Regions from separate parts of the Homo sapiens genome. Here regions 2, 3 and 4 are each linked to region 1. Evidence: fine-mapped expression QTL. A gene starts in region 1. Each other region holds a variant in brackets. All regions are shown on one strand. Distances are from middle to middle. Region 1 holds the start of PRAM1 (PML-RARA regulated adaptor molecule 1). Region 2 overlaps MYO1F (myosin IF). Region 3 overlaps MYO1F (myosin IF). Region 4 overlaps MARCHF2 (membrane associated ring-CH-type finger 2).

Region 1 (8,101 bases):
GGACTCTCTCGACCTGGGGAGGAGGGTGGGACAGGGTGAAGGGGCCCATTTTACAGATATATAGAGAAGGTGAGGCTAGGAGGCCTCTAGCCAGCCCCAGTTCCCAGTCAGCGGCACTGATTCTGCACCATCTTGGGAGCTGCGCACGGTTACCACGAGAAGAGAAAACCCTGCCAGCAGGTCCAGAGGACACGCCCCTGTTCCCGCATTCTGCAGGTCCCTAGATCTGGCTGTAGTCCAAGCCTCTCCCCCATCTCCAGGGACAGCGCTGTGTTCTCTGTCCCCCAGGCCCCTAACCCCTCTCCAGGGTCCCGGGGGCCCCCAGGAGTCTTTGTCCCCATCAGTTTCTTTATTCGGCCACCCCCAGATCTAGGCCACGCCTCTTCCCAGTCTGTCAGTATCTTTCCAGAGAAACCTAGAGCCAACACGTCCGTCCAGGGACCTCTCCCCTACCCCATCACCCACGGAGATGGGACAGCCCTTCCTGTGTGTACAGCGGGCCCACGGCCACCACACTACCCTCTGGAGTGAACTGACTGCCGCGAGGCCTGGGGAGCTGGCTCACCACCTGTCCTCCACCGTTCACCCTGTCCACTGCAGAAACGACCTCCTACCCTCAAGCCGGCCCCCAACCCCCATGCACAGGAGCCCAGCCCTCTTGGGCCCCGGCTCCGCCCAGCAGGGGGCGCCCAGGAATCTCAGACTCGGGGGAATGAAAGCCGGGAGAGCAGTGGGGATAGCGGGCAGGTTGGCTGGAAGCCGCGGGCTCGCGCTGAACAGCTCTGAGGCCGGCCAGAGGCCCGTGCCCGGCATTTGTCCAGCCCCAGCTGTCACTTGCAGGTGCCGGTCCGGTTACCCTCATTGCGGGCCAGGAGCGGGGAGGTGGAGGGCGCCCTGCGGCCCTGGGATCCGCCGCCCACGTGCTCCCCGGGCTCCTCCCCCTGCACACCGTTGTTCGCGTTTCCGACCCCGCAGATTCCCCAAGGCGCGCCCTAACGAACTCTCACTCCCCTGGTCCGGGCTCCCTTCTCCGGGATTCCGGTAACCCTATCTGTCCCTGTCTGCAGCCGCGCCGCGCGGAACCCTGCCGGGAGCCCCTACGGAGGCGCCAAATACACAAAGGGTAGTTGGCGGGGAGGCGCACCATGACTACAGCTCCGGGACCTGCGCTTCACCCCCACGGCGCCCCCGTGGGGCCTTGGTGCGCGCGCCCTGGCTGGACCCTCCTAGCTGCGAGAGTGCACGGGTAGTGACCAGCCCAGGCACCTGGGAATCCATCAGCTGTCATCCAATCCTTTAATTACCTTGATTGAGCTCCTTACTGTGGCCAAGCATTGCTTGATTTATTTATTTACTTATTTTTATTATTTAATTTAATTTTTTTTTTTTTGAGACGGTGTCTCGCCTTGTCACCCAGGTTGGAGTGCAATGGCGCAATCTCAGCTCACTGCAACCTCCGCCTCCCGGGTTCAAGCGATTCTCCCGCCTCAGCCTCCCAGGTACCTGGGATTACAGGTGTGCACAAACAGTATTTTTAGTAGAGACAGGGTTTCATCATGTTGGCCAGGCTGCTCTCGAACTCCTGACCTCAGGTGATACGCCCGCCTGGCCTCCCAAACTTCTGGGATTACAGGCGTCAGCCACCGCGCCTGGCCACTTGTTCTTTCTTTCATTCTTTCCTTCACTTGCCAAGGTTCTGGAGACCCACAGAGAGCCCATACTGTCCTCCCGAGACTCCTTTTTGGGAGGGCAACCCACATCTGGGAACTGTGCCCCAGGACAGGATGCAAAGGCACAACAGAGATGGCAGAATCCTGATGTCTGTGCTCTTAAAGGAGGCGTGAAAACAGGCAGGCCAGGCGCAGTGACTAAGGCCTGTAATCCCAGCACTTTGGGAGGCCCACGTGGGTAGATTGCTTGAGGTCAGGAGTTTGAGACCAGCCTGGCCAATGGTGACACCCCAGCTCTGCTAAAAATCCAGAAAATTAGCCGGGCATGTTGGCAGGCACCTGTAATCCCAGCTACTTGAAGCCGGGAGGCAGCCTGGGAGACAGAGCAAGACTTTGTCTCAAAAAAAAAATTTTAAAATGTTTTAAAAATACTTGCTCGGGCCACACCCCAGACTGATTAAGTCAGAGTTTCTTGTAGGTTCTGTTTTTTGTTTTGTTTTTTTTTAGATGGAGTTTTGCTCTGTCACCCAGACTGGAGTGCAGTGGAGCCATCTCGTCTCACTGCAACCTCCGCCTCCTGGGTTCAAGCAATTCTCCTGCCTCAGCCTCCCAAGTAGCCAAGATTACAGGCATGCGCCACCACGCCGAGCTAATTTTTGTATTTTTAGTAGAGATGGGGTTTCTCCATGTTGCCCAGGCTGGTCTTGAACTCCCAACCTCAGGTGATCAACCTCAGGTGATCCACCCGACTCAGCCTCCCAAAGTGCTGGGATTACAGGCGTGAGCCACACTGCCCAACCGCCGGTTCTTTTTTTTTTTTTTTTAACTGTTCAGGCAATTCCAACATGTGCTCAAACTGAAAACCAGGGCTCTCTACTCTCTTAGCAGGTGTTTTCTCCCTTTGTCTACCGTGACGGAGATTACTGATCTCCTGTGGGCTGAGCTCTGTGGTCAGGGCTTGTCCTTATCTGGCCAGTCCTCGGCACCACAAGTGACTGCCTTCACCCCCTCTTGGCCCCTGTCTCTGTCTCCTGGTTCCTCTTCTCTCTACTACCTCTAACCTCTGGGAATCTGGTGTGTCCTCGGGTCCTCAGACCCCCTCACTCCTCCAGAACTGCAAAGCCTTTTTTTTTTTTTTTTTTTGAGATGGAGTCTCTCTCTGTCACCCAGCATGGAGTACAGTGGCGTGATCTTGACTCTGCAACCTCCGCCTTCAGGGTTCAAGTGATTCTCCCACCCCAGCCTCCCAAGCAGCTGGGACCACAGGCGTGCACCATCACACCTGGCTAATTTTATATTTTTTGTAGAGATGGAGTCTTGCTACATTGCCCAAGCTGGTCTTGAACTCCTGGGCTCAAGTGATCCTCCTGCCTCAGCCTCCCAAAGTGTTAGGATTACAGGCGTGAGCCACCGTGCGTGGCCCAGGTGCAAGGCCTTTGACACCACTCACCCACCGACCCCCAAATCTGCTGTACCAGCTAAGCTTTCTGCCCAGGGCGGCAGCCTGGGACATCCATGGCCTGTGATATCTGCCCCAGAACAAGTGAGTCCTGCTCAGAGCCGGGAATTGGATTTCATGGAAGTGTTGAAATGAGGAAGGCGGATGAGCCAACCAGGGCAGACAGCAGAGGCCTCACCCGGTCACATGGGCCCCCACGTCCTGGGCCTCTGGGCCTCCCCAGGAGCCTCCTAAACCCCAGAGCTGTCCGTACCCCTGATCTGCTGAGATCTCCCCATCCTGTGGCTCTCTAGCCCAGGAGGTCACCAGGGCCTGGCATGGAGTCCTCCCTGGAGTCCAGAGATGGGGACACCAAAGTAGTAGGAATGATGGGGACTATAGAGAGTAAGAAACTAGTTGGCCAGGCGTGGTTGCTCACGCCTGTAGTCCCAGCACTTTGGGAGGCCGAGGCGGGCAGATCATCTGAGGTTGGGAGTTTGAGACCAGCCTGACCAACATGGTGAAACCCCGTCTCTACTAAAAATACAAAAAATTAGCCGGCAGTGGTGGCACATGCATGTAATTCCAGCTACTCAGGAGACTGAGGCAGGACAATCGCTTGAACCTGGGAGGCGGAGGTTGCAGTGAGTCGAGATTGCGCCACTACACTCCAGCCTGGGCAACAAAGTGATACCCCGTCTCAAAAAAAAAAAAAAAAAAAAAAAAAAGAAAGAAACTAGTGACCATGTTAGGAACATGCGGGCAACCAGTGCCCCAAGCTTGGGACAGTAGCAGGCAGGACAGGAATTCAAGCGAAATAGAAGTGCCCAGCAGGGGCCGGGGCAGTGGCTCACACCTGTAATCCCAGCACTTTGGTAGGCCGAGGCGGACCGATCCCTTGAGGTCAGGAGTTTGAGACCAGCCTGCCCAACATGGTGAAACCCCTTCTCTACTAAAGATACGAAAAGTAGCCAGGAGCGGTGGTGCGCGCCTGTAATCCCAGCTACTCAGGAGGTTGATGCAAAAGAATTGCCTGAACCCGGGAGGCAGAGGTTGCAGTGAGCCGAGATGGCACCATGGCACTCCAGCCTGGGCGACAGAGCAAGACTCAGTCTCAAAAAAAAAGAAGTGGCTGGCAGGATCTGGAGACGGACTGGAGCCTCCCCACCTCCTTCCCTTCCTCCTCTGCCCTCCCCCGCCCCACCTCTAGCAGCCCCCACCCTGTGTGCTGACCGTGGAGCAGAAGCCACAGTCACTTCCTGAAGGCAGCGGCCCCAGCTCGGGTCCCACTCATCCCATGGCCCATCACCTGCCTGCAGCCATGGTGAGTGCTGGAAGAGGCCTGTGCCTCACTGGCTGGGAAGCAAGGGACACAGATGTTCCCAGAAGGATAGGATCCACCTGTGGAGGGGCGGGCGGGGGGGCGGGGGGTGGCTGCGAAAGACATCTGGGAAACGGGAAGGGTCGGCAAAAAGGACCCGAGGTAGGCGGCCACCAGGCACACCCCAGGACAGCGCGGGCTCCTGGGGGTTCACGCTCAGGTTGGGACTGCGAGGGGGACAGATGGGACTCCCCGGGGGGACAACTCCCGTCTCCCCAGGTCAACATGAGCAGCCATGTGGGAACGGGCTGCTGGGGTGAGAGCAGTGCTTTCCTGCGGGGTGACAAAGTGGGTCATGACCCTCCCCCGTCCAGTCACCCAAGTTGTGACCTGCTAACCCTGACTTATCTAGCCCTGTGGTCGCCCGGGAGCACTTCCTTCAAACCACTCGGGGCTTTGACAGGGGCACTTCAGGCCCCAGGTGGGAATTGCTGCCTTTCCAAGGAGCAATCCTGGTCTCTGGTCCTCTGGATGGGGAAAGTGAGGCACACGCAGGAAGCAAAGGCCACACGTTTCTGCCCTTTCCCTCCCCCAATCTCCTTGACCACAGGTGAAAGGGGCGTTTGTAGGACTAAGGAGGCCTGGCCTTCTTGTGAATCTGCCTACCTCTGTGAGGAGTGGTTGCAGGGCCAGCTAGGAGGGCAGCTGGGACAGCTGGGTATGCAGGAGACAGCGCCTGTGCCCACGGTGTCTGCACCAATCCTCTCAGGCACTGTCAACTGTGAGCATTCCTGACCATCAGCCCGCATGTCAGAGACGGTGTGAGAGGGACCGCATGGCCGTCTCCAGGCATCTCTGTGTTTTCCTGATGGTCAGGCTGAGTACATGGCTGTCTTTGTGCTGCCTGAATATTGTTTATTTCAGCAAATATTTACTGAGCACCTACCATGTTCCAGGCCCTGGGAAGACAGCAATGAATGAGCCAAGTCTCTGCCTTGCAGAGGCTGAGGAACTGAGGGAAGTTGTGGTGTAGAGAGACAAAAAAAAAAAAAAAAAAAAATCAAGACACATTAAAAACAATGTAAAATAGTATAATACGTAGGGGTGGGTACGATGGAGAAAATCATGCATGCTGAATGCAGGGCAGTAGTGGGATGGGGTGATCCATTTAAAATAGGGTGGTCTAGGCCAGGCGTGATGGCTCATGCACTTTGGGAGGCCGAGGTGGGTGGATCACTTGAGGTCAGGAGTTCGAGACCAGCCTGGCCAACATGGTAAAACCCTGTTTCCATTAAAAATACAAAAAAAATTAGCCAGGCGTCGTGGCAGACACCTGTGATCCCAGCTACTCAGGAGGCTGAGAATCGCTTGAACCCAGGAGGCGGAGGTTGCAGTATGGCGAGATTCCACCACTGCATTCCAACCTGGGTGACAGAGTGAGACTCCGTCTCAAAAAAAAAAAAAAAAAAGAAAGAAAGAAAAATAGGGTGGTCTAGGTTGGGCACGGTGGCTCACACCTGTAATCCCAGCACTTTGGGAGGCTGAGGCGGGTGGAGGGTGGATCACCTGAGGTCGTGAGTTTGAGACCAGCCTGGCCAACGTGGTGAAACCCTGTCTCTAGTTAAAATACAAAAATTAGCCAGGTGTGGTGGCGAGTGCCTGTAATCCCAGCTACTTGGGCGGCTGAGGCACGAGAATCATTTGAACCTGGGAAGTGGAGATTGCAGTGAGCCGAGATCGCGCCATTGCACTCCAGTCTGGGTGACAGAGCAAGACTCCATCTCAAAAAATAAAAATAAACAAATAGGGTGGCCTTGGATGGCCTCTCTAATAAGAAAATATGAGAACAGAGGCTGGGAGGAGGAAAAGGAGAGACCCAGGTGGTGCAGAGACATGTCCTGGGTCAGGGACAGGGCAGAGGCCCCGAGGTCGGAGGGAAGTGTTCAGGGTGCAGGGAGGAGAAGGTGGCTGGGTAGGGAGGCTGGTTCGCCCAGGCTTTTATGAGGCATTTAGCTTGAACTGTGGGGACATGAGGAAGCATTGCCGAGTTTTGAGCAGAGGGACACAAACAGACTCAGGGTTCAACAGGCTTCTCCCTCCAGCTGCCATGGGGGGAACTGACCAGGGAAGGGGGTAGGCAGAGGCCCAGGGAAGGGCTTGTTAGAGTAATCCAGGCAATTGGTTGGGGGAGGGCAGACACTGCCTCCCACTACCTCCTGGGGTGACAGTGGTGAAGGCAGTGAGAAGTGGTTGGATTCCGGATGTGTTTTGAAATTAGCACAGAAGGGACTGGGGGCCTGGGCGCGGCGGCTCAAGCCTGTAATCCCAGCTACTGGGGAGGCCGAGGTCGGGGGAATCATTGGAGCCCAGGAGTTGCAAGCTGCAGTGAGCTATGATTGCACCACTGCTCTCCAGCCTGGGCAATGGAACGAGACTGGAGACATGCAGTGGGAGGGGTGAAAGAATGAGGGGGTCAAGGATGCTGGGGGGGTGGGGTACCACCCATGGGGGGAGGGCAGTGGGACTGGAGGCTGCAGGAGGGATGTCGGGATCTCCAGTGCTGCTAGAGGAGGTTGGGTGTGGAATCAGCACTAAATGGAGAAGTAGGGAGGGGTGTCGGTCCCAGGATCCTAGGATCCATGGGGGCTCCTGGGAAAGAGCTGAGGGCTGACCGGGCCTGGGCGCAGGGGTGGTGGTTGTGGGCTGTGCCTGAGGGTCCCCAGGCCCATCCTTCCATGCCCCTTCTGTGTGTTTGAGCCCCTGCCTCATTGGCTCTGCGTCTCCTAGGAGAGCCATCAGGACTTCCGGAGCATCAAAGCAAAGTTCCAGGCCTCTCAGCCGGAGCCCAGCGACCTGCCCAAAAAACCTCCGAAGCCTGAGTTTGGTAAACTGAAGAAGTTCTCCCAGCCTGAGCTAAGCGAGCACCCCAAGAAGGCCCCGCTGCCTGAGTTTGGTGCAGTGTCCTTGAAGCCCCCGCCGCCTGAGGTCACTGACCTCCCCAAGAAGCCCCCGCCGCCTGAGGTCACTGACCTCCCCAAGAAGCCCCCGCCGCCTGAGGTCACTGACCTCCCCAAGAAGCCCCCGCCGCCTGAGGTCACTGACCTCCCCAAGAAGCCGTCCAAACTGGAGTTGAGTGACCTCTCCAAGAAGTTCCCACAGCTGGGGGCCACTCCGTTTCCAAGGAAGCCCCTGCAGCCTGAGGTCGGTGAGGCCCCTTTGAAGGCCTCGCTGCCGGAGCCTGGTGCGCCGGCCCGGAAACCCCTGCAGCCCGACGAACTCAGTCACCCCGCCAGACCCCCCTCCGAACCCAAATCCGGCGCATTCCCCAGGAAGCTCTGGCAACCCGAGGCCGGTGAGGCTACCCCGAGGTCCCCGCAGCCTGAGTTGAGTACCTTTCCCAAGAAGCCTGCGCAGCCTGAGTTCAACGTGTACCCCAAAAAGCCTCCGCAGCCTCAGGTCGGTGGCCTCCCTAAGAAGTCCGTGCCGCAGCCTGAGTTCAGCGAGGCCGCTCAGACTCCCCTCTGGAAGCCTCAGTCCAGCGAGCCGAAGCGCGACTCCAGCGCCTTTCCCAAAAAGGCCTCCCAGCCTCCGCTGAGTGACTTTCCCAAGAAGCCTCCGCAGCCTGAGCTTGGGGACCTCACCAGGACCTCCTCAGAGCCCGAAGTCAGCGTG
Region 2 (8,101 bases), 31 kb before region 1:
CCTGGCAACAGAGCGAGATTTTGTCTCCAAATAAAAATAAAAATAAAAATAAAACAAAATGCAAAACCCAAGGCAAACCTCTCAGGCATACACACAGTTTCCCTACCTCCAAAGTACATGTCTTAGCCAGGCACAGTGGCTCAGACCTGTAATCCTAGCTACTCCGGAGGCTAAGGCAGTTGATCGCTTGAGCACAGGAGGCTGAGGCTACAGTGAACTATCACGGCGCCACTATACCCCAGCCTGAGTGACAGAGGGAGACCCTGTCTCAAAAAAAATCACCCAGCCAGGTATAGTGGCTCATGCCTGTAATCCCAACACCTTGGGAGCCAGAGGTGGATGGATCACCTGAGGTCAGGAGTTCATGACCAGCCTGACCAACATGGCAAAACCCTGTCTCTACTAAAAATTATCCGGGTGTGGTGGCACATGCCTGTAATCCCAGCTACTTGGGAGGCTGAGGCAGAAGGATCTCTTGGATCCAGGTGGTGGAGGTTGCAGTGAGCCAAGATGGCACCATTGCGCTCCAGCCTGGGTGACAGAGCAAAATTCCATCTCAAAACAAAATAAAACAGAACAAAACAAAAAAAACAAACACCCAAGGTACCTATCTCCCCAAAGGACAAAAAGAAATGCTCTCATAAGGGCTCTGTTACTCAGTCAACAAACATTTACTGAGCACTTACTATGTGCCAAGGTAAGTGGTGAGTGCGGTAGACGTGAGAGCTCCTTGTCTTGGGTTCCAGGGTCAGGCAGACACCCCACATCAGTCCCACTAGTGTGGTGTGCACTAGTGGAGGTGCACACAGACCAGGGACATCTGGCCCCTGTGGCTTATCTGTTACCAGCCCTCACCCACCCCCAGTCTCTGTCTATTGGGACTGTATCCAGGGTGGAAAAAAGAGGGGCCAGAGGGTCCCATCTCTGTGCCCCCCACCCACCCGTCTTCACTTCTGCCTCAGAAACAAGCCAACGACCTGGTGGCCACACTGATGAGGTGCACACCCCACTACATCCGCTGCATCAAACCCAACGAGACCAAGAGGCCCCGAGACTGGGAGGAGAACAGGTGATCCCCCCCAACCAATCCAAGATTCATTCCCCCCAGGCCCTGCAGTTACCCCTAGAACTGACCGAGACACCTCCCTGACCTCCTGTAGGATGACCCAGGGACTAGCACAGCCCCTCCCACAATCCCCCACCTGCAGAACTGACCCCAGAAGGGACCATCAGGACAAGATCCCTCCCCCCAGTCCCCAGGCTGACCCCCGAAGCCCCCCCAGACCACAGAACTCACCCCCCAAACTTCCCTCAGCATGAATCCAGATCCCCCCAGGTCCCCCACCTCCAGCACCTCCCACCCACCCCCAGGACTGGTGACTCCCCACCCCGAGGGGACTCAGCCTACCCTCCCCACCAGAGTCAAGCACCAGGTGGAATACCTGGGCCTGAAGGAGAACATCAGGGTGCGCAGAGCCGGCTTCGCCTACCGCCGCCAGTTCGCCAAATTCCTGCAGAGGTGAGGAGCCCTCCACCCCCGCCCTCGCCATCCCCTTCATCAGAACGCCCAGCCAGGCCTGTCTGCTATGAGCACTCCCACACCCCAGCCCTCCGCCCTCAGGTATGCCATTCTGACCCCCGAGACGTGGCCGCGGTGGCGTGGGGACGAACGCCAGGGCGTCCAGCACCTGCTTCGGGCGGTCAACATGGAGCCCGACCAGTACCAGATGGGGAGCACCAAGGTCTTTGTCAAGAACCCAGAGTCGGTGAGTGTGTTTGAGGGACAGGCAGAGAAGGAGAGGGGAAGAGAGAGAAAGGTATAGAGAGGGACTGAGAGAGAGAGAGAGAGACAGAGGGAGACAGAGATTGAGAGAAAGACTGATAGATTGAGAAATTGAGAAACAGATTGAGAGAGAGGGATTGACAGAGAAACTGAGATAGAGGTTGAGAGAGAAATTGAGAAAGCAAGTGAGAGATTAATAGACTGAAAGTAAGAGACTGAGAGAGACTGAGCGAGAGATTAAGAAAGACTGCGACTGCCGGGCGCGGTGGCTCATGCCTGTAATCCCAGCACTTTGGGAGGCTGAGGAGGGCGGATCACAAGGCCAGGAGATCGAGACCATCCTGGCTAACACAGTGAAACCGCGTCTCTACTAAAAATACAAAAAAAATTAGCCGGGCATGGTGGCGGGCACCTGTGGTCCCAGCTACTCAGGAGGCTGAGGCAGAAGAATGGCTTGAACCCAGGAGGCAGAGGTTGCAGTGAGCCGAGATCACGCCACTGCACTCCAGCCTGGGCGACAGAGCGAGACTCCGTCTCAAAAAAAAAAAAGAAAGAAAGAATGTGATTGAGAGATTGAGAGAGAGAGATTGAGAGAGACACTCTGGAAGAAATAGACCAAAAATTTTGACATAGAACAGAAAAAAGGCAAAATAAAACTAGCACCAAGTCAGGTGTGGTAGCGCATGCCTGTAATATCAGTGCTTTGGGAGGCTGAGGCAGGAGGATGGTTTGAAGCCAGGAGTTCGAGACCAGCCTGGGAAACATAGTGAGACCCTGTCTCTACAAAAGACAAAAAGAAAAAAGAAAAATAACTATCACCAGCAAAGACTATATAAAGTAAAATTTAATTTAGACAAAAATTTCAGTCTATAGATTTTGATTTGGAGAAGACGGACGGGGTAGAAATAATGAAATTCACGATGGCAGATGCTTAGTGGTAAAATCCTATAAGAACATCAACAACAAAGACAGACTGAATATTTATAAAAGAAAGAAAATAATCCTGATGAAAATAATCTTGCTGGCCAGGCGCACTGGCTCACACCTGTAATCTCAGCAATTTGGGAGGCTGAGGTGGATGGATCACTTGAGGTCAGGAGTTTGAGACCAGCCTGGCCAACATGGTGAAACCCCTTCTCTATTAAAAGTACAAAAATTAGCTGGGCGTGGTGGTGCACACCTGTAATACCAGCTACTCAGGAGGCTGAGGCAGGAAAATCACTTTAACCCAGGAGGCAGAGGCTGAAGTGAGCCAAGATCGTGCCACTGCACTCAAGCCTGGGCAACAGTAATTTAATTTTAGTAAAATAAGCTGGGTGCAGTGGCTCACGCCTATAATCTCAACACTTTGGGAAGCCGAGGCGAGTGGATCACGAGGTCAGGAGTTCAAGACCAGCCCGACCAACATGGTGAAACCCCGTCTCTTCTACAAATACAAAAAATTAGCCAAGTGTGGTGGTGCGCACCTGTAATCCCAGCTACTCAGGAGGCTGAGGCAGGAGAATCACTCAAACCCAGGAGGCAGAGGTTGCAGTGAGCCGAGATCGCACCACTGCACTCTAGCCTGGGCAACAGAGTGAGACTCCATCTCAAAAAAAAAAAAATTAGTAAAATGAAAATAGAAGAAAAGGCCAGGCACGGTGGCTCACAACTGTAATCCCAGCACTTTGGGAGGCCAGGGTGGTGGATCACTTGAGGTTAGGAGTTCGAGACCAGCCTGGCCAACATGGGGAAACCCCATCTCTACTAAAAATACAAAATAAGCCGGGCATGGTGACACGTGCCTGTAATCCCAGCTACCTGGGAGGCTGAGGCAGGAGAATTGCTCGAACCTGGGAGGCAGAGGTTGCAGTGAGCTGAGATTGCGCCACTGCACTCCAGCCTGGGGGACAAAGTGAGACT[CTG/G]AAAAAAAGAAAAGAAAAGAAAAGAAAAATAGCCAACGGTTTAACTGTGCTATATTTAAAAAGTAATCAAGAAATTAAATTAGCTTAATGGAGTTGGAGCCTTTCTCAACCAAAAATGCATTCATGTTGGGATGAATTTTTTTTTTTTTTTTTAGACAGAGTCTCGCTCTGTCACCCAGGCTAAAGTGGAATGGCGCAATCTTGGCTCACTGCAACCTCCACCTTCCTGGTTCAAGCAATTCTCCTGCCTCAGCCTCCCAAGTAGCTGGAATTACAGGCACCCGCCACCACACCAGGCTAATTTTTGTGTTTTTAATAGAGATGGGTTTTCACCCTGTTGGCCAGGCTGGTCTCCTGACCTCAAGTGATCTGCCCACCTCAGCCTCCCAAAGTGCTGGGATTATATGCATGAGCCACCGCGCCCGGCCCCTATTTTGATTTTCTTATGAACATGGTTTGGGCCATCCTCAAACATTTTATCTGCCTGTTGGCCTTTGTGGCCCAGCATCCCAGGTATGTTATAATAGTCTGCTGGGACAGCTGAAACAAAGTTCCACAAACTCCATGGCTTAACACAACAGCAATTTATTCTCTCACAGTTCCGCAGGTCAGAAGTCCAAAATCAAGGTGTTGGCATGGCCATACTCTCTAAAGGTTTTAAAGAAGAATCTGAGGCTAAGCGTGCTGGCTCACGCCTGTAATTCCCAGCACTTTGGGAGGCCGAGGCAGGCGGATCATGAGGTCAGGAGATTGAGACCACCCTGGCTAACACAGCAAAACTATGTCTCTACTAAAAAAATACAAAAAAGTTAGCCAGGCATGGTGGCGGGCGCCTGTAGTCCCAGCTACTCGGGAGGCTGAGGCAGGAGAATGGCGTGAACCCAGGAGACGGAGCTTGCAGTGAGCCAAGATCGCACCACTGCACTCCAGCCTGAGCGACAGAGCAAGACTCCGTCTCAAAAAAAAAAAAAAAGAAGAAGAAGAAGAAGAAGAAGAATCTGAGGCTGGGCACGCTGGCTCACGCCTGTAATCCCAGCACTTTGGGAGGTCAAGGCTGGTAGATTCCTTGAGCCCAGGAGTTCCAGACGAGTCTGGACAACATGGCAAAACCCCAACTCTACCTCTCTACCAAAAAAATATATATATAATAATACCATAATTAGCCTTGAGTGGCTGAGGTGGGAGGATCCCTTGAGCCCGGGAGCCGAGATCGCACCACTGCACTCCAGCCTGGGAAACAGAGCAAGACCCTGTCTCTGAAAAAATTAAAACTATTTTGGTCAGCAGAGCAGGGAGCAAGGCTCTTAGCAGCAATGTGCTACCTATGGACTTGGGAAAGCACTCTGGGTGAAGTGCTAATTTTTCTAAATAAAGCCCAATTGTGTGTGTGTGTGTGTGTGTGTGTGTGTGTGTGTGTGTGTGTGTGTATTTTTTTTTTTTTCTGAGACAGGATCTCACTCTATCTCCCAGGCTGGAGTGCAGTCGCACAATCACAGCTCACTGCAGCCTCAACCTCCTGGGCTCAAAGAATCCTCCCACCTCACCCTCCGGAATAGCTGGGACTACACATGCGTGCCATCACCCTCAGCTAATTTTTGCTTAGTTTTTGTAGAGACGGGGTCTTTCTATGTTGCCCAGGCTGGTCTTGAACTCCTGGGCTCAACAATGCTCCCACCTTAGCCTCCCAAACTGCTGGGATTAGAGGCATGAGCCACCGCACCCAGCCTATATTTGCATTATTTCCCATCTTCACTAATTGACAATATTGTCCCTTTGATCACAGTTTCTCTTTGAAGTAGGATGTTTCTCAAGCATCTGCCCTATTCCAGTTAATCATTCTATTCTCTGACAGGCATGCTATTGTTTTTATTACTATAGATTTACAGTATTTTAATATCCAGTAGGTTCCTCACCTTGTTCACCTGCTGTTATTACAAATGAGTAGACATTCCTCTTAGACTTTGTACTTTGACTTGCTGTAATGTAATTCATTCTCTAAGTCCCCTCTGGGTCTAGACTTTTACAACTCAAAACCCTTTTCTCTGCTTTCTGCAAAAGCTTCCTTTCTGGGCCTGCTACGGATGGCTGTGCAGGTTGTACACTGCCCAACCACACGGTTGCTAGTCACATCACAGTTCTACACATCAGATTTTCTTTTTCTTTCTTTTTTTTTTTGAGATGGAGTTTCATTCTTTTCTTTTTTCAGGGGTCGGGGGACTGAGTCTCACTCTGTCGCCCAGGCTGGAGTGCAGTGGCGCAATCTCCGCTCACTGCAACCACCACCTCCCGAGTTCAAGCGATTCTCCTGCCTCAGCCTCCCGAGTAGCTGGGATGACAGGCATGCGCCACCACACCCGGCTAACTTTTGTATTATTAGTAGAGACGGGGTTTCACCATGTTGGCCAGGCTGGTCTCAAACTCTTGACCTCAGGTGATCCGCCCACCTCGGCCTCCCAAAATGCTGGGATTACAGGCTTGAGCCACTGCACCCGGCCACATTTTCATATTTACTGTATTTTATTGGTTTTCCAAGATGCACACTGGTTCCTATTTCTACCATCTCTGACACGGCAGTGTACCTCGTGGATAGTGTCGAGTAACAGTGTAAGAAACCGTGACATCATACCGTTTCTTGCAAAAGCACACAGGTAGTAAGTGGCACAGCTGTGATCTGAAGCTAGTGACTCACTGTTATCATGTAAGGCAGAAGTGTGTACCCCACATGGGGAGAGACGCACAGGGAGGTCCAGTCATTTGGAGGAAGATAAAAATTTTTCCAGCCTGGGCAACATGGCAAGACCACATCACCACAAAATTAGCTGGGCATGGTGGCTCACAGCTGTAGTCCCAGCTACTCAGGAGGCAGAGGTGGGAGGATCACTTGAACCCAAGAGGTTGAAGCTGCAGTGAGCTATGACTGCACCACCACACTCCAGTCTGGGCGACGGAGCGAGACCCTGTCTTTTTCTTTTTTTCTTTTTTTGAGATGAAGTTTTGCTCTTGTTGCCCAGGCTGGAGTGCAATGGCACAATCTCAGCTCACCGCAACCTCCAACTCCCAGGTTCAAGTGATTCTCCTGCCTCAGCCTCCTGAGTAGCTGGTATTACAGGCATGTGCCACCATGCCCGGCTAATTTTATGTTTTTAGTAAAGACAGGGTTTCTCCATGTTGATCAGGCTGGTCTCAAACTCCCGACCTCAGGCGATCTTCCCGCCTCAGCCTCCCAAGGCGCTGGGATTATAGGCATGAGCCACCAGCTTTTTTTGTTTTTGTTTTTTGTCTTTTTGAGATGGAGTTTCACTCTTGTTGTCCAGGCTGGAGTGCAATGGCGCGATCTCAGCTCACTGCAACCTCCGCCTCCCGGGTTCAAGTGATTCTCCTGCCTCAGGCTCCCGAGTAGCTGGGATCACAGGCATCTACCACCATGCCCAGCTAATTTCTTTTTGTATTTTTAGTAGAGATGGGGTTTCACTATGTCGGTCAGGCTCGTCTCAAACTCCTGACCTCAGGTGATCCACCCGCCTCGGCCTCCCGAAGTGCTAGGATTACAGGCGTGAGCCACTGCGCCCGGCCCCTTTTTCTTCTTTTCTTTATGAACGAGTGTCACTAGAAAGACCCCGCCTCTTAAAAAAATTAGCACATGTGTGGGGATGGGTGAGCAAAAGCGTGTGAGTAGGGTGAGCGCAGGGAAAACCCGGAACTGCAGCCCCTGGGGAGACACCAGGACTCACCCTTGCCCCCCACGACCCCCGCCCAGCTTTTCCTCCTGGAGGAGGTGCGAGAGCGAAAGTTCGATGGCTTTGCCCGAACCATCCAGAAGGCCTGGCGGCGCCACGTGGCTGTCCGGAAGTACGAGGAGATGCGGGAGGAAGGTGAGAGGCTTCGGGTAAACGGCGCGGGGTGGGGGCACAAGGACCTGGAGGAGCTGTATCAGGAGCTCTGCCCTCCACCCTCTGTCCCCGCAGCTTCCAACATCCTGCTGAACAAGAAGGAGCGGAGGCGCAACAGCATCAATCGGAACTTCGTCGGGGACTACCTGGGGCTGGAGGAGCGGCCCGAGCTGCGTCAGTTCCTGGGCAAGAGGGAGCGGGTGGACTTCGCCGATTCGGTCACCAAGTACGACCGCCGCTTCAAGGTGAGGCACTAGTGGGTGGGCACAGCAAGACCCTGACTACAGCCTGGCACCCTCACCTGGCCCAGATGCACCTGCCCACAGCCAGATATCCCCCAGCCTAGATCCATCTGTTCCATCACAGGTACACCCTCACCTGGCCCATATGCACCTGCCCACAGGCATAGATCCCCCAGCCTAGATCCATCTGTTCCATCACAGGTATACCCTCACCTGGCACAGACACACCTGTCCATAGGTATCTATCCCCCAGCCTAGATCCATCTGTTCCATCACAGGTAT
Region 3 (8,101 bases), 42 kb before region 1:
TGAGGCAGGAGAATGGTGTGAACCCTGGAGGCGGAGCTTGCAGTGAGCCGAGATCATGCCACTGCACTCCAGCCTGGGCGACAGAGTGAGACTCCGTCTCAAAAAAAAAAAAGAAAAAAAAAAAAAGAAAATAGAGGTGCAGAGAGGTTCAGGGGCAGAGTCAGCTCTGGAGTCAGGGACCCTGATACACTGACACTTGGGTTTCTCCTCTGAGTGACTGATTATGGGGTGGGGAGACTGTACACAGAGCCAGGAAGGGCAGAGCTAAAGAGGGCTGGAGGGAAACTGGCATGAGGGGACATCACCCATGAAGTTGGCTAGGCGTGTGTCTAAGGAGTGGTGGGCAGGGGCTTCAGATCTGACCGATGCCCACTGACTTCCTGTCCCCACCCACACCGCAGGCCATCAACCGTGCTATGCAGAAACCCCAGGAAGAGTACAGCATCGGTGTGCTGGACATTTACGGCTTCGAGATCTTCCAGGTACGGCCCCCTGCCTCCAGCCCACATCCTGTCCTCCCTGGGGCAGCCCAGGGTGGCCACAAGAACTTCCAGCACCAGGACATTGAGGGAAGGACCCTTTTCCTCCTTCTGCAGAAAAATGGCTTCGAGCAGTTTTGCATCAACTTCGTCAATGAGAAGCTGCAGCAAATCTTTATCGAACTTACCCTGAAGGCCGAGCAGGTGGGCGGCCAAGCAGTCAGGGATGGGGGATCCTGGGGTGGGGGTGGGGTGGAAGGACCATGAGGATCCCTTAGCAACTAGGGGACACCCCAGCCCTCCCCACCGCGTTCCCACCTCTCTGTGCCAACCTACCCAGGCTCCATAGTGATACTTCCTTCTGCCTCTAAAGCTTTGGGAAGGACCGTGCCTCTTAGTTCATTCATTCAGCAATTATTTATTGAGCACCTGTTGTGTGCCAGGTACTGTTTAGGGTGCTTGGAGACACAGCCATGAACAATAAGGCAATAGTCCCTGCTGTCTTCATTTTGCCCCTCCCCCAGAAGCAGAGCCTGAGGCAAGGATTCAGAGACAAATGGTTTTTCTGGGAGGCAATCCCAGGAAGCTCCAAGAGGAGACTGAGGAAGTAAGTCAGGGATTTTTTTTTTTTTTTTTGAGACAAAGTCTCGTTCTGTCACCCAGGCTGGAGTGCAGTGGCATGATCTCGGCTCACTGCAACCTCCGCCTCCAGAGTTCAAGTGATTCTCCTGCCTCAGCCTCCCGAGCAGCTGGGACTACAGGCACCCACCACCATGCCCAGCTAATTTTTGTATTTTTAGTAGAGACAGGGTTTCATCATATTGGCCAGACTGGTCTCAAACTCCTGACCTCGTGATCCACCCACCTCAGCCTCCCAAAGTGCTGGGATTACAGATGGGAGCCACCATTCCCCGCTTTTTTTTTTTTTTTTTTTTTTTTGAGACAGGAACTCGCTCTGTTGTCCAGGCTGGAGTGCAGTGGTGTGATCACAGGTCACTGCAGTCTACACCTCCTGGGCTCAAGCAATCCTCCCACTTCAGCCTCTCAAGTAGCTGGGACCGCAGGCACACACCATCATGCCTGGCTAATATTTTAAAACTTTTTTGTAGAGTTGGTGTTTCACTTTGTTGCCCAGATTGGTCTTGAACTCCTGGCCTCAAGCAATCCTCCTGCCTTGGCCTGCCAAAGTGCTGGGACTACAGGCATGAGTTAATATGCCCAGTCCTGAGACAGGGATTTTTTTAACAAAGAGAGAGAGAGAGGCTGGGTGCAGTGGCTCACGCCTGTAATCCCAGCACTTTGGGAGGCTGAGGTGGGTGGATCACCTGAGGTCAGGAGTTTGAGACCAGCCTGGCCAACATGGTGAAACCCCATCTCTACTAAAAATATAAAACTTAGCCAGGTGTGGTGCTGGGCACCTGTAATCCCAGCTACTCAGGAGTCTGAGGCAGGAGAATTGCTTGAACCCAGGAGGCAGAGCTTGTAGTGAGTCGAGATTGTGCCATTGCACTCCAGCCTGGGCAACAGCAGAATGAGACCCTGTCTCAAAAAAGAAAAGAAAAAAAGAGAGAGACAGACCGAGCCAGACACAATCACTCACACCTATAGTCCCAGCTATCTAGGAGGCTAAGTTAAGAGGATCGCTTGAGCCTGGGGGTTCAAAGCCAGCCTGGACAACATAGTGAGACCTCATCTCTACAAAAAACATAAAAATTAGCCAGGCATGGTGGTGTGCTCCTACGGTCCCAGCTACTCGGAAGGCTGAGATGAGAGGATCACTTGAACCCTGGAGGTCAAGGTTGCAGTGAGCTAGGATCGCATCGCTGAGTTCCAGCCTGGGTAACAGAGCAAAACCCGGTCTCAAAAAAAAAAAGCAAGCTGTGTGCGGTGGCTCATGCCTGTAATCCCAGCACTTTGGGAGGCCGAGGTGGGCAGATGTCCTGAGGTTGGGAGTTCGAGACCAGCCTGACCAACATGGAGAAACCCCATCTCTACTAAAAATACAAAATTAGTCCGGCGTGGTGGCACATACCTGTAATCCCAGCTTCTCGGGAGGCTGAGGCAGGAGAATCGCTTGAACTCGGGAGGCGGAGGTTGCGATGAGCCAAGATCGTGCCATTGCACTCCAGCCTAGGCAACAGGAGTGAAACTCCATCTCAAAAAAAAAAAAAAAAAAAAAAAAAGAGTCAAAATAGTGTGTTAATGAGCACGTTATGCTGTGGACAACCGGAATGCAACTGCACTGGGACTCGAGGAGGCTTCATAGAGCGGAGAAGCGAGGGAGCTGGGGTATTTATCCACCCACTCCTGTTGATTATTGGTCAAGGACTGCTGAAACCAGATGTAATTCCCTGGCACTTCCAGCCTTGCCCACATAGGAGTGACGGGCTTTGTTACCAGAGACAGTCCTAAGTGATGAGATGGAGAAGGGGAGAGGACATGGGGGGAAGGGTGGCCACAACTTTTTCACTGGCCCCCACATCCACCCCCTTTTCCACCCCAGGAGGAGTATGTGCAGGAAGGCATCCGCTGGACTCCAATCCAGTACTTCAACAACAAGGTCGTCTGTGACCTCATCGAAAACAAGCTGGTGAGGGCTGGGTCAACTTTGGCGGGGGCGTCTCACTGGTCCCCTGAGCTGAGTCTGGAAGATGAGGGGGAGGGCCAAGGGTGTTATGGCATCCTCAGGCCCTTCTCTACCCTACACTCAGGACTTCCAGCGACAGATAACAACCAAAATGTCCCTTCCGCCCCTCATCCATTCATTCCGCCTACTTGTCCACCTTTCACTTAATCATTCAATAAACATTTCCCCGGGAACCCCAGCTCACAGTTAGAGTCAAATTTGCAGATTCCATGCCGGTGGCTCACGCCTGTAATCCCAGCACTTTGGGAGGCCAAGGTGGGCGGATCACCTGAGGTCAGGAGTTCGAGACCAGCCTGACCAATATGGTGAAAACCTGTCTCTACTAAAAATACAAAAAATTAGCCAGGCGTGGTGGCAGGCGCCTGTAATCCCAGCTACCCGG[A/G]AGGCTGAGGTGGGAGGATCACTTGAGCCCAGGAAGTCAAGGGTGCAGTGAGCTATGATTGCACCACCACACTCCAGCCTGAGGAACAGAACAAGACCCTGTCTCAAAAAAAATTAAATTTAAGACGTATTTAGGCGGGACATGGTGGCTCATGCCTGTAATCCCAGCACTTTGGGAGGCCAAGGCAGGTGGATCACCTGAGGCCAAGAGTTCGAAACCAGCCTGGCCAACATGGTGAAACCCCATCTCTACTAAAAAATACAAAAATTAGCCGGGCATGGTGGCGGCATGCCTGTAATCCCAGCTACTCAGGAGGCTGAAGCAGGAGAATCACTCGAACCTGGGAGATGGAGGCTGCAGTGAGCTGAGATCACGCCACTGCTCTCCAGCCTGGGCAAGAGAGCAAGACTCCGTCTCTAAATAAATAAATAAATACATAAGGCAGGTCCCCCTACCAAGGGATTCTAGTCTGGGGCCTGAATCTCTTGAGGGGTCCCCACCCACTTCTGCACCTCAGCGAGCTTCCACAGTAGCCCCACACACCCTTGCCCCCCTATCCCTTCCATCCCTGACCCCTGCAACGCCTTTTGTGCTTGTATTTGAAGCCCCTGGTGCCCTCCCCACCCCCAAAGCTCTAGCTCCCTCCACTCCTCCACCCCCTCCCTCCCCTAATCTCTGCACTGACGAGCTGTGGGGAGGCAAGGCAGACCAAACTGAGCCGCTGCTGGCTCCCGCTCGCCCCGCAGAGCCCCCCAGGCATCATGAGCGTCTTGGACGACGTGTGCGCCACCATGCACGCCACGGGCGGGGGAGCAGACCAGACACTGCTGCAGAAGCTGCAGGCGGCTGTGGGGACCCACGAGCATTTCAACAGCTGGAGCGCCGGCTTCGTCATCCACCACTACGCTGGCAAGGTGCGCCCCCTGCCCCTACCCTACCCTGTGCCTCCTCGCAGACCCCCAGGGCTCCAGGCTGTAGCCCCCACCCTCCAGCACCCAGGCTGGAAAGAGCCTGCTAGGACCCTTATCCAGGGCTGTAGAATTCCACTGTCCCCCGCCTCAATCCACCCCCTACTAACCAGAACTACAGACCCTTCCGGCTGACCCCCCAGGAACTCTCTAAGCCCCAAACTTGTCTGGACACCACCACCACCACCACCACCACCACCAGCACCGCCACCGCCACCGCCACCGCCACCGCCACCGCCACCACCAGCACCACCACCAGCACCAGCACCAGCACCACCACCACCACCACCACCAGCACCACCAGCACCACCACCACCACCACCACCACCACCACCACCACCACCAGCACCACCACCACCACCACCAGCACCACCAGCACCACCAGCACCACCACCACCACCACCACCACCACCACCACCACCACCACCACCAGCACCACCAGCACCACCACCACCAGCACCACCAGCACCACCAGCACCACCACCACCACCACCACCAGCACCACCAGCACCACCAGCACCACCACCACCACCAGCACCACCACCACCACCACCACCACCACCACCAGCACCACCACCACCACCACCAGCACCACCACCACCACCGTGTTCCCTGGGCCAGGGCTGCAGAAACCCTGACCTCTGATCCAGGCCACAGCTTCCCTTACACATCAACTCCCCTAACAGAGGGAACAGAATTCCCCCCGATTAACACCAGCTTGGGTACCAGACTGCCTATGTTCAGATAAGCCCCAATGTGAGTCATAACCCCCTGACTAGGACACAGCCCCCCACCTTCTGATCCCAATTTGGAGAGGAAATCCCCAAAGCCCCCAGGCCCCTCCTGTGAGCCACCAGCCTTCAAAATGTGCTGAAGCCTCCTACAGACCCCTACCGAAGGCTACAGAAATCCACTGGACTCTAACCATGCCCGCAGCCCCACTCCCCAAAAGACAGGACTACACTCTCAGGCAGTGATCCAAGGATCTCACAACATGAGAGCAGAAGTTCCTAGGAGTGCCCCTAAAATGGGCTGGAGAGGCTGGGAGTGGTGGCTCACGCCTGTAATCCCAGCACTTTGGGAGGCTGAGGCGGGTGGATCACCTGAGGTCAGGAGTTCAAGACCAGCCTGGCCAACATGGTGAAACCCAGTCTCTACTAAAAATACAAAAATCAGCCGGGCGTGGTCGTGGGCACCTGTAATCCCAGCTACTCAGGAGGCTGAGGCAGGAGAATCACTTGAATCCAAGAGGTGGAGGTTGCAGTAAGCCAAGATTGTGCCACAGCACTCCAGCCTGAGCAACAGAGCAAGACTCCATCTCACAAAACAAAAGCAAACAGGGCCGGGTGCAGTGGCTCACGCCTATAATCCCAGCACTTTGGGAGGCTGAGGCGGGCGGATCACAAGGTCAGGAGATCGAGACCATCCTGGCTAACATATTGAAACCCCGTCTCTATTAAAAATAAAAAAAAAAATCAGCCAGGTGTGGTGGCACACGCCTGTAATCCCAGCTCATCGGGAGGCTGAGACAGGAGAATCACTTGATCCCGGAAGGCGGAGGTTGCAGTGAGCTGAGATCGTGTCATTGCACTCCAGCCTGGGTGATAGAGCAAGACTCTTTCTCAAAAAAAAAAAAAAGCAAACAAACAAAAACAAAAACGGCTGGAGCTCCCATGTTCCCTCAGCCAGGGTTGCAAAAGCCCTGCTCAGAACTACAGAGGGCCCTAACCTTTGGTAGCAGCTCCAGCCCCCAACCCTGGCTGAAATGCCCCCAGAGATCCCTGAGACAGGGCTGTTACCCTCCTGACACAGGCCCCCTGCACTGGCCCCTGATTGACCAGGTCACAGATATCCAATCTGACCTCTGACTCCCAGGGACCCCCCCGCCAGGCTGCAGCCCCCCACCCACCAATCTGAGCTATAACTTTCACCGCCCCCCGGCCTCTGATGCAAGCTGCAGCTCTCTCCTGGCTCATCTAGGTTGTAACCCCCACCTCCCCTTACCTCTGACCTGGGATACAGCCACGATCCTCTAACCTCAACTTGAACATCAGCTCTCCAGGAAGCCCGCCCCCCATCCCCTATTCTGAACTGTAGATACCCCCCAGCCAGCGCTGTAGACACTGCCTGATCCTCTCACCCCACAGCAGGCCCCAGGAAAGCCTTGACCACCTGGGCTGTAAGCACCCCACGCCCACCCTCCCAGCCAGGTTTCTCAGTCCCTCACTGTCCTCAGCACTGTCCCCTCCAGGTCTCCTACGACGTCAGCGGCTTCTGCGAGAGGAACCGAGACGTTCTCTTCTCCGACCTCATAGAGCTGATGCAGACCAGTGAGCAGTGAGTGGTCCCAGGCATGGGGACCTCCGGCTACAACCCCCCAAGGGGATGGAGGGAGGACCGGGCCCCACTCCATCTTACCCAGAACTGCCATCTCGCCACAAACTCGAGGGGAGTGGCTGTGCGGCCAGGATGGTGTTTCTATGGACTAGTTCTGATGTAAAAAGTAACTCCAGAGGCCGGGCGCAGTGGCTCACGCCTGTAATCCCAGCACTTTGGGAGGCCGAAGTGGACAAATCTCTTGAGGCCAAGAGTTTGAGACCAGCCTGGGCAACATGGCAAAACCTTGTCTCTACTAAAATTATAAAAATTACCTAGGCGTGGTGGCGCGCACCTGTAATTCCAGCTACTCAGGAGGTGGAAGCATAAGAATCTCTTGAACCCAGGAGGCAGAGGTTGCAATGAGCCAAGATTGTGCCACTGCACTCCAGCCTGGGCGACAGAGGGAGATTCTGTCTCAAAAAAAAAAAAAAAAAAAAACACACACACACACACACACACAAAGAACATAGCATTAGATGTAAAGTAATAAGACGGGGATCCTTAAAGTGTTTGACATGTGGTTCTTAGACCAGCAACCTGAGCATCCTTGGGCCTTGTTTCCAGTGCAGAATCTCCCTAGCCAGAAGGATCACTGGAGGTCCCAAGTTTAAGACCAGCCTGGGCAACATAGCAAGACCCCTGTCTCTTAAAAAAAAATTCTTTTTTTTAAATGCTTGTCTACTCTGCCAGCAAAAATAATAATAATTAATTAATTAGCTGGGTGTGGTGGCACATGCCTATAGTCCCAGCTACTCGGGAGGCTGAGATAGAAGGATCACTTGAGCCTAGGAGGTGGAGGCTACAGTGAGCCGTGATTGCACCACTGCACTCCAGCCTTGGCAACAGACCTTATCTCTGAGGGGAAAAAAAAGGCAGAACCTCAAACTCCACCCCAGACCTCCAGAATCAGAATCTGCATCTGATTCTGAACTATCAGAATCTGAACAATCAGGTTTAGAACTATCGGAACCTAACCTGATCTTTAAGCCAGGATGCACCCATGCCTCCCAGGGATCCATGTGCACGTAAGGGTTTCAGCAGCACTTACCATTAAATCCACCCACTTTAAGCAGTGTCTCAATCCATGACGTTTAGCAAATTCACAGAATTGCGCAACCATCACCACAATCCGATTTTTTTTTTTTTTTTTTGGAGACAGTGTCTCTCACCCTGCCGCCCAGGCTGGAGTGCAGTGGCACGATCTCGGCTCACTGCAACCTCCACCTCCTGGGTTCAAGCGATTCTC
Region 4 (8,101 bases), 65 kb after region 1:
AGCTACATACCAGGCAGGGATTCATATGGAAAACAGACCTTGAGCAATCAGCTCCTCCACTCTGAGGCTCAGTTTGCTTAACTGAAAATATGGATAATAAGAAATGCAATGCACCAGGCTGGGCACGGTGGCTCACGCCTGTAATCCTAGCAGTTTGAGAGGCCGAGTCAGGTGGATCATTTGAGGTCAGGAGTTCAATACCAGCCTGGCCAATATGGCGAAACCCCATCTGTACTAAAAATACAGAAATTAGCCAGGCATGATGGTTGGCGCCTGTAGTCCCAGCTACTCAGGAGGCTGAGACAGGATAATTGCTTGAACTCGGGAGGTGGAGGTTGCAGTGAGCAGAGATAGTGCCACTGCGCTCTAGCCTGGGCAACAGGGCGAGACTCCGTCGAAAGAAAGAAAGAAAAGAAAGAGAGAGAGAGAGAGAGAGAAAGAAAGAAAGGCACCAGAACTCACCTTTCAGGGTTGCCCTGAGCTTTAAAAGCAGACAGATGCCAAGAGCCTTTAAATATAAAAGAATCGGCAGGCAGAAAGCGCTGAAGAAGTAGGTGTTGTTATTAGATTAACTGCATTCTGGGCCAGGCTCGGTGGCTCACGCCTGTAATCCCAGCACTTTAGGGGGCCGAGGTAGGTGAATCACCTGAGGTCAGGAGTTCGAGACCAGCCTGGTCAACATGACAAGACTTCATCTCTACTAAAAATACAAAACTTAGCTGCCTGTGGTCCCAGCTACTTGGGAGGCTGAGGCAAGAGAGAATCACTTGAACCCGGGAGGCAGAGGTTGCAGTAAGCCAAGATCACCAAGATCACGCCACTGCTCTCCAACCTGGGTGATGGAGTAAGACTCTGTTTCAAAAAAAAAAAAAAAAAAAAAAAAAAACACGTATTCTGCATCTTTCCTGAGTCTTCCTCCAAAAGGAGTCCTGGTGTCACCCCGGCTCCACTTCCTACAGCTCTGAGACCTTAGATTAAGGCTTCCCTGCCCTGGGCCTCAGTCTTCTCACCTGTAAAATGTAGGTAATAACCACTTCTTCCCTAACAAGTGACAGTCAAAGGAGGGAGAGACTCGGAACTATGCCTAATCTATAGTCACCCTAAGTCAGCGTGGATATTGTCACCATTTTTAAAAAATTGTTTGTTTGCTTTAGAGACAGGGTCTTGCCCTGTTGCCTAGAATAGACAACAGAAGTATAATTATAGCTCACTGCAGCCTGGAACTCCTGGATTCAAGGGATCCTCCCACCTCAGCCTCCTGAGTAACTGTGACCACAGGTGCATGCCACCATGCCCAGCTAATATATATATATTTATATATTTATTTATTTAGTAAAGACAGGGTCTCACTATGTTGCCAAGGCTGGTCTCAAACTCCTAGGCTCAACTGATCCTCCTGCCGAAGCCTCCCAAAATGCTGGGATTACAGGCATCAGCCACCAGGCCTGGCCCATGCTGGACTCTCTACACTTAACTAAAAACTAACAGTGGCTAGGCGCAGTGGTGCATGCCTGTTGTCCCAGCTGCCAGGGAGGCTGAGACAGGATTGCCTGAGCCCAGGAGGTCGAGGCTGGAGTGAGCTGTGTGATTGTGCCTCTGCACTCCAATCTGGGTGACAGAGCAAGACCCCATCTCAAAAAAAGAAAAACAGAGGCCAGCATGGTCTGTGGACTGGCAGATGCAAAGTAAGAGGAAATTGTTCTTATGTCTATTTTATTTTTCTATTTTTTATTTTTTGAGACAGAGTTTCACGATGTCACCCAGTCTGAAATGCAGTGGTGCAACTGATCTCAGCTAACTGCAACCTCTGTCTCCCAGGTTCAAGCCATTCTCCTGCCTCAGCCTCCCGAGTAGCTGGGATTACAGGTGTGCGTCTCCACGCCCAGCTAATTTTTGTATTTTTAGTAGAGATGGGGTTTCACCATGTTGGCCAGGCTGGTCTCGAACTCCTGACCTCAGGTGATCCACCCATCTCGGCCTCTCAAAGTGTGATTACAGGCATGAGCCACCATGCCCAGCCCGTATGTATATTTTAAAAATCATTTTTATAACCCTGCTACCTGATTTTTACTTGAAGACTGAGCCTTTGCTTCTTCCCATGGGCTTCAGAACAGATCCCTCAAAACAAGCCAGTGGTTTTTATTGTTTTTTATTTTATTTTATTTTTTTTGAGACAGAGTCTCGCTGTCTCACCCAGGCTAGAGTGCAATGGTGCGATCTTGGCTCACGGCAACCCCTGCCTCCCGGGTTCAAGCGATTCTCCTGCCTCAGCCTCCCGAGTAGCTGGGACTACAGGTATCTGCCACCACGCCTGGCTCATGTTGTATTTTTAGTAGAGACGAGATTTAACCATATTGGCTAGGCTGGTCTCGAACTCCTGACCTTGTGATCCGCCCACCTCAGCCTCCCAAAGTGCTGGAATTCCATGCATGAGCCACTGTGCCTGGCCAACCAGTGTTTTTTGTTGTTGTTTTGTTTTGTTTTGTTTTGGAGATGGAGTCTCTCTCTGTCGCCAGGTTGGAGTGCAGTGACGCCATCTCAGCTCACTGCAACCTCCACCTCCCAGGTGCAAGCGATTCTCCTGCATCAGCTTCCTGTGTAGCACCTGGGATTACCGGCGCGCACCACCATGCCCAAGTAATTTTTATATTTTTAGTAGAGACAGGGTTTCACCATGTTAGCCAGGATGGTCTCGATCTCTTGACCTTGTGATCCACCCACCTCAGCCTCCCAAAGTGCTGGGATTACAGGAGTGAGTCACTACACCTGGCTGGCCGCCAGTGTTATTTTTTTACCTCCATGTGGTCCCTCCCTGGGAGGCCTCCTTTGAGAAACATAACTGACAAGTCCATTTTGTCCAGCCAGGGCTCCTTTTATTCATTCAGGGGTGGGTTTTTGAAACGCAGTGCAACTTTTATATAAAGTCGAGGGTGCCAGGAAAGTGGGCCTGCCGGGTGCAGAGAAGCGCAAGAAGCTTGCTGGAATGTTCCAGCTTTAAGGGCGCCCTTGATACACCGGCCACAGCTGCTGGCCCAGAAGGTGCCATGTGGACCTCAGAATGAGATCAGGGTGCCTGCTCCGTCCAGAGCTCAGGACCATGTCCACCTGTCCTCCATATGCAAAAAAAAAAAAAAAAAAACCCTGAAAATATCTTCACACAGGATCACAGACTAGGCTCTGCATGGTGTCTCTTGGCCTAAGAAGCGTTCAGGCCGTGCGGGAACTGTTGAAGTGGAAGTGTTGAAGTGGAAGTCCTTCCACAGGACAGGGTATCACCAGCTACCTCTGGCCTCTCTGCTGCAGGGTCCGGAGAGCCCAGCATTCATACTGGTGTCTCCTCTGCCACCTTCTTCAGGAGTCCAGCTGCCAGTGGAGAATGCTGGGGGCCCTCGGGGCTGTCCGCCTCC[C/G]GGATCTTCAGGCGAACTTTCTGGTTGGTCTTTCTCCACTCGGAGTACAGCTGGCAGTGGTAGCGGAAGGAGACCTGTGGGGCAGCCCTGCAGTGAGCGGAGGCCTCCACCCGCAAGGGAGGAAAACAAGTCGCCGTGGTGGCACCTGCGTTGGCCCAAACCATGGCTGGGGCTCATGCTTCCAGAAGCAGAGCTGGCTTATGAACATTCCTCCCACAAAGTGCACACACACAGACCCATTCACACTCCTGGTGACACCCACCAGCTTCCAGAGTCCTGCAAAGACAAGATACACCCCACACACACCAGCAGGAAGCAAACGGGAGCTCCTTTCCTGCCTCTCAGTGGGAAAGGAGTGAAACAGCCTCTTGGAAGGCATTAAATGTCAATCAATCAGGCCGGGCGAGGTGGCTCACACCTGTAATCCCAGTAGTTTGGGAGCCCGGGCACGGGGGAAGATCACTTGAGCTCAGGAGTTCAAGATCAGCCTGGGCAACATGGAGAAACCCTGTCTCTACTAAAAACCCCGTCTCTACTAAAAATACAAAAATTAGCCTGGCGTGGTGGCACGGACCTGTAGTCCCAGCTACTTGGGAGGCTGAGGCAGGAGAATCGCCTGAGCCTGGGAGATATGGGCCGCAGTGAGCCGAAATCACGCCACTGCACTCCAGCCTGGGCGACAGAGTGAGACCCTGTCTCAAAAAAATTTTTTTAATGTAAATCAGTCACATAATTGCCAAAACGTGCAACCAGAACGTGCAAACAAAAAAAAAAAGTTTAAAAAAAAAAAAGTCACTCAATAGGTGAATGAGGCCAGGCGTGGTGGCTCACGCCTGTAATCCCAGCACTTTGGGAGGCCAAGGCAGGTGGATCATGAGGTCAGGAGATCGAGACCATCCTGGCTAACACGGTGAAACGCCATCTCTACTGAAAATACAAAAAATTAGCCGGCCGTGGTGGTGGGCGCCTGTAATCCCAGCTACTCGGGACGCTGAGGCAGGAGAATGGTGTGAACCTGGGAGGCAGAGCTTGCAGTGAGCCGAGATCGCACCACGGCACTCCAGCCTGGGCGACAGAGCGAGACTCCGTCTCAAAAAAAAAAAAAAAAAAAATAGGTGAATGAATAAATAAACAGTGGTGCTTCCAGATAATGAGATCTTATTCAGTGCTAAAAAGAAACGAAGCTGGGTAAGGTGGCTCATGCCTGTAATCCCAGCACTTTAGGAGGTCGAGGCGTGGGGACCACTTGAGCTCAGGAGTCGAAGGCCAGCCTAGGCAACATAGCGAGACCTTGTCTCTACCAAATATTTAAAAATTAGCCAGGTGTGGTGGCCCAGGCCTGTGGTCCCAGCTACTTAGGAGGCTGGGGTAGGAGAATCATTTGAGCCCTGGAGGTTGACGCTGCAGCAAGCTGTGCTCACGCCACTGCAATCCAACAGAGTGAGATCCTGTCTCAAAAAAAAAAAAAAAAATGCTGGGCGCAGTGGCTCAAACCTGTAATCCCAGCACTTTGGGAGGCCAAGGTGGGTGGATCACCTGAGGTCCAGAGTTTGAGACCAGCCTGACCAACATGGAGAAATCCCATCTCTATTAAAAATACAAAATTAGCCAGGCATGGTGGCGGGTGCCTGTAATTCCAGCTACTCAGGAGGCTGAGGCAAGAGAATCGCTTGAACCTGTGGGGGAGGGGTGCGGAGGCTGCGGTAAGCCGAGATCGCTCCACTTCACTCCAGCCTGGGTGAAAGAGCGAGACTCTGCCTCAAAAAAAAAAAAAAAAAAAAAAAGAAAGCCCTTAAGCCACGAAAATAACCTTAAATGCTTATCACCAAATGAAATAAACCAACCTGAAGATGCTGCATACTGAATGACTCCAACTATAGGACATTCTGGAAAAGGCTAAACCATGGAGACAGTAAAAAGATCAGCAGTGGATAGGGCTTGGGGAAAAGGAGGGTGGCATGAATAGAGAGAGCACAGAGGACTTTTAGGGCAACGAAACTACTCTGTCTGATATTATAATGGTGAATATGGCTGGGTGCAGTGGCTCACACCTGTAATCCTAGCCCTTTGGGAGGCCAAGGTGGGCAGATCACGAGGTCAAGAGATCGAGACCATCCTGGCCAACATGGTGAAACCCCATCTCCAATAAGAATACAAAAATTAGCTGGGCGTGGTGGCACAGGCCTGTAGTCCCAGCTACTCGGGAGGCTGAGGCAGGAGAATCGCTTGAACCCAGGAGGCGGAAGTTGCAGTGAGCCAAGATCGCACCACTGCACTCCAGCCTGGCACACAGTGAGACTCTGTCCCCCCCAAAAAAAAAAATAGTGAATACATGTCATTATACATTCATCAAAACTTATAAATGTCCAACAGCAAGAGTCAACTCCTAGCCTGGGCAACATGGCAAAACCCGGTCTCCACCAAAAAAATACAAAAATTAGCCAGGCGTGGTGCACACATCTGTAATACTAGCTACTCAGGAAGCTGAGGTGGGAGGATCAATTGAGCCTGGGAGGTTGAGGCTGCAGTGAGCCATGATCACGCCACACTGCACTGCAGCCTGGGTGACAAAGAACAATCCTATCCCCTCCCCGCCACACACACACACACACACACACACACACACACACACAGGCCAGGTGCAGTGGCTCACACCTATAATCCCAGCACTCTGGGAAGCCAAGGTTTGAGCCCAGGAGTTTAAGACCAGATACAACAACATAGCAAAACACTGTCTCTACAAAAAATACAAAAACTAGCCAGGTGTGGTAGTGGGCACCTATGGTCCTAGTTACTTGGGAGGGCCGAGGTGGGAGGATCGCTTGAGCCCAGGAGGTAGAGGTTGCAGTGAGCGGAGATCACACCACTGCACTCCAGTCTGAGAGACAGGGCGAGATACCATCTCAAAACAAACAAACAAAAGAAGTGAATCCTAATGTGAACTATGGCTTTAAAGGGATAATGAAGGTTCACTGATTGTAACAAATGCACTGCTTGGGTAAACGATGTTAATAGTGGGGGAGGCTGTGCAAGTTGTGTGCGTATGGAGCAGGGTGATATACAGGAACTCTCTGTACTTTCTGCTAAATTTTGCTGTGAACCTAAAATTGCTCTAAAAATTAGTCTATAAAAAAATTTAAAAATGGCCTAGTGTGGTGGCTCACACCTGTAATCCCAGCACTTTGGGAGGCAGACACGGGCGGATCACGAGGTCAAGAAATCGAGACCATCCTGGCCAACATGGTGAAACCCTGTCTCTACTAAAAATAAAAAAAATTATCTGGGCATGGTGGCGCACACCTGTAGTCCCAGCTACTCGGGAGGCTGAGGCAGGATAATTGCTTGAACCTGAGAGGCAGAAGTTGCAGTGAGCCAAGATCGCGTCACTACACTCTAGCCTGGTGACAGAGCGAGACTCTGTCTCAAAAAAAAAAAAAAAAATTAAAAAATAAATGTTGCTTAGCGCAATGGCTCACGCCTATAATCCCAGCATTTTGGAAGGCCAAGGTGGGCAGATCACCTGAGTCCAGGAGTTCGAGACCAGCCTGGCCAACATGGTGAAAACTCGTCTCTACTAAAAATACAAAAATTAGCCAGACATGGTGGCAGATGCCTTAATCCCAGCTACTCGGGAGGCTGAGGCATGAGGACTGCTTGAACCCGGGAGGCGGAAGTTGCAGTAAACTGAGATTGCACCATTGCACTCTGGCCTGGGCGACACAGTGAGACTCCGGCTAAATAAATAAATAAATAAATAAAGGTCAGTGGTTCACATCCTTTGACCAAGCAAGTTCCCAAGAAACATTTGCATGGACAGTCCCAAAGCACTGTTCATAATGGAAAAAACAAGGAAGTAGAAATAAAACCACACACACATTGGAAAAAATCCCAGTGCCTGTCAAAAGTGATTTGTTAAATAAATATGGTCCACCCATACAATGAATGTCTGCTGGGTGGCTGCCTCGTTGTGTGTGTGGGTTTTTTTTTTTAAAGAACACCAGCAAAATGAAAACAAGCAGATGCTAAAACAGTAGCTATGATTTCATCCTATTTACATATTTTAAAATATGCTGGTAGGGGCAGGGCGCGATGGTTCATGCCTGTAATCTCAGCACTTTGGAAGGCCAAGGTGGGTGGATACCTGAGGTCAAGAGTTCGAGACCAGCCTGGCCAACATGGCGAAACCCCGTCTCTACTAAAAATATAAAAATTGGCTGGGTGTGGTGGCACATGCCTGTAATCCCAGCTACTCAGGAGGCTGAGACAGGAGAATCGCTTGAGCCCAGGAGGCGGAGATGGCAGTGAGCCAACATTGTGCCACTGCACTCTAGCCTGGGTGACAGAGCAAGACCCCGTCTCAAAAAAAAAAAAAAAAAAAAAGAAATGCTGGTAGGTTCATTGAAAAATACTTTGTGAGGCAGGGACTCCCCTACAGCTGGACAATAGTGGTTATGTCTGAGGGGTGAGATTTGGGGGAGCTTTTGCCTCTAAGCAAGGGTTCTGCTGCCTACCAGAGGCCTAGAACAATACCTCACACCCCCATCATTCTGTCTGTCTCTCATTCAGGCTTTTTTTCTTTTTTTTTTTTTTGAGACAGAGTCTTATTCTGTCACTCAGGCACCCAGGCTGGAGTGCAGTGGCACGATCTTGGCTCACTGTAACTTCCACCTCCCAAATTCAAGTGATTCTTGTGC

The links. PIP is the estimated chance that this variant, and not a neighbour inherited with it, causes the effect.
Region 2: its variant is fine-mapped to the expression of PRAM1 in whole blood (INTERVAL, PIP above 0.99).
Region 3: its variant is fine-mapped to the expression of PRAM1 in whole blood (TOPMed, PIP above 0.99).
Region 4: its variant is fine-mapped to the expression of PRAM1 in whole blood (TOPMed, PIP above 0.99).

What each region holds. Positions count from the first base shown.
Region 1 is chr19:8,498,896-8,506,996 of GRCh38, reverse strand. PRAM1 (PML-RARA regulated adaptor molecule 1) reads left to right here and starts at 4,357. Exons shown (of 10, transcript NM_032152.5): 1 at 4,357-4,432; 2 at 7,217-8,101. The coding sequence starts at 4,406. RefSeq lists enhancers at 66-652, 692-1,192, 7,802-8,101 and silencers at 736-995, 1,106-1,205, 1,226-1,275.
Region 2 is chr19:8,529,917-8,538,017 of GRCh38, reverse strand. MYO1F (myosin IF) reads left to right here. Exons shown (of 28, transcript NM_012335.4): 17 at 963-1,069; 18 at 1,421-1,519; 19 at 1,622-1,766; 20 at 7,445-7,559; 21 at 7,653-7,822. The region is part of intron 1 of LOC124904633 (a long non-coding RNA gene); the gene reads right to left. Among named protein-coding and RNA genes, the nearest start is that of ZNF414, 20 kb to the right of the region's middle. The variant CTG/G (reference allele first, on the strand shown) is at 3,686.
Region 3 is chr19:8,540,618-8,548,718 of GRCh38, reverse strand. It overlaps MYO1F (myosin IF), which reads left to right. Exons shown (of 28, transcript NM_012335.4): 11 at 402-482; 12 at 597-683; 13 at 2,983-3,069; 14 at 4,255-4,422; 15 at 6,728-6,813. LOC124904633 (a long non-coding RNA gene) reads right to left here. Exons shown (of 3, transcript XR_007067131.1): 3 at 1,394-2,634. Among named protein-coding and RNA genes, the nearest start is that of ZNF414, 31 kb to the right of the region's middle. The variant A/G (reference allele first, on the strand shown) is at 3,509.
Region 4 is chr19:8,433,768-8,441,868 of GRCh38, reverse strand. It overlaps MARCHF2 (membrane associated ring-CH-type finger 2), which reads right to left. Exons shown (of 5, transcript NM_001005415.2): 5 at 2,852-3,481. The coding sequence ends at 3,323. Among named protein-coding and RNA genes, the nearest start is that of HNRNPM, 7.2 kb to the left of the region's middle. RefSeq lists a silencer at 1-4. The variant C/G (reference allele first, on the strand shown) is at 3,408.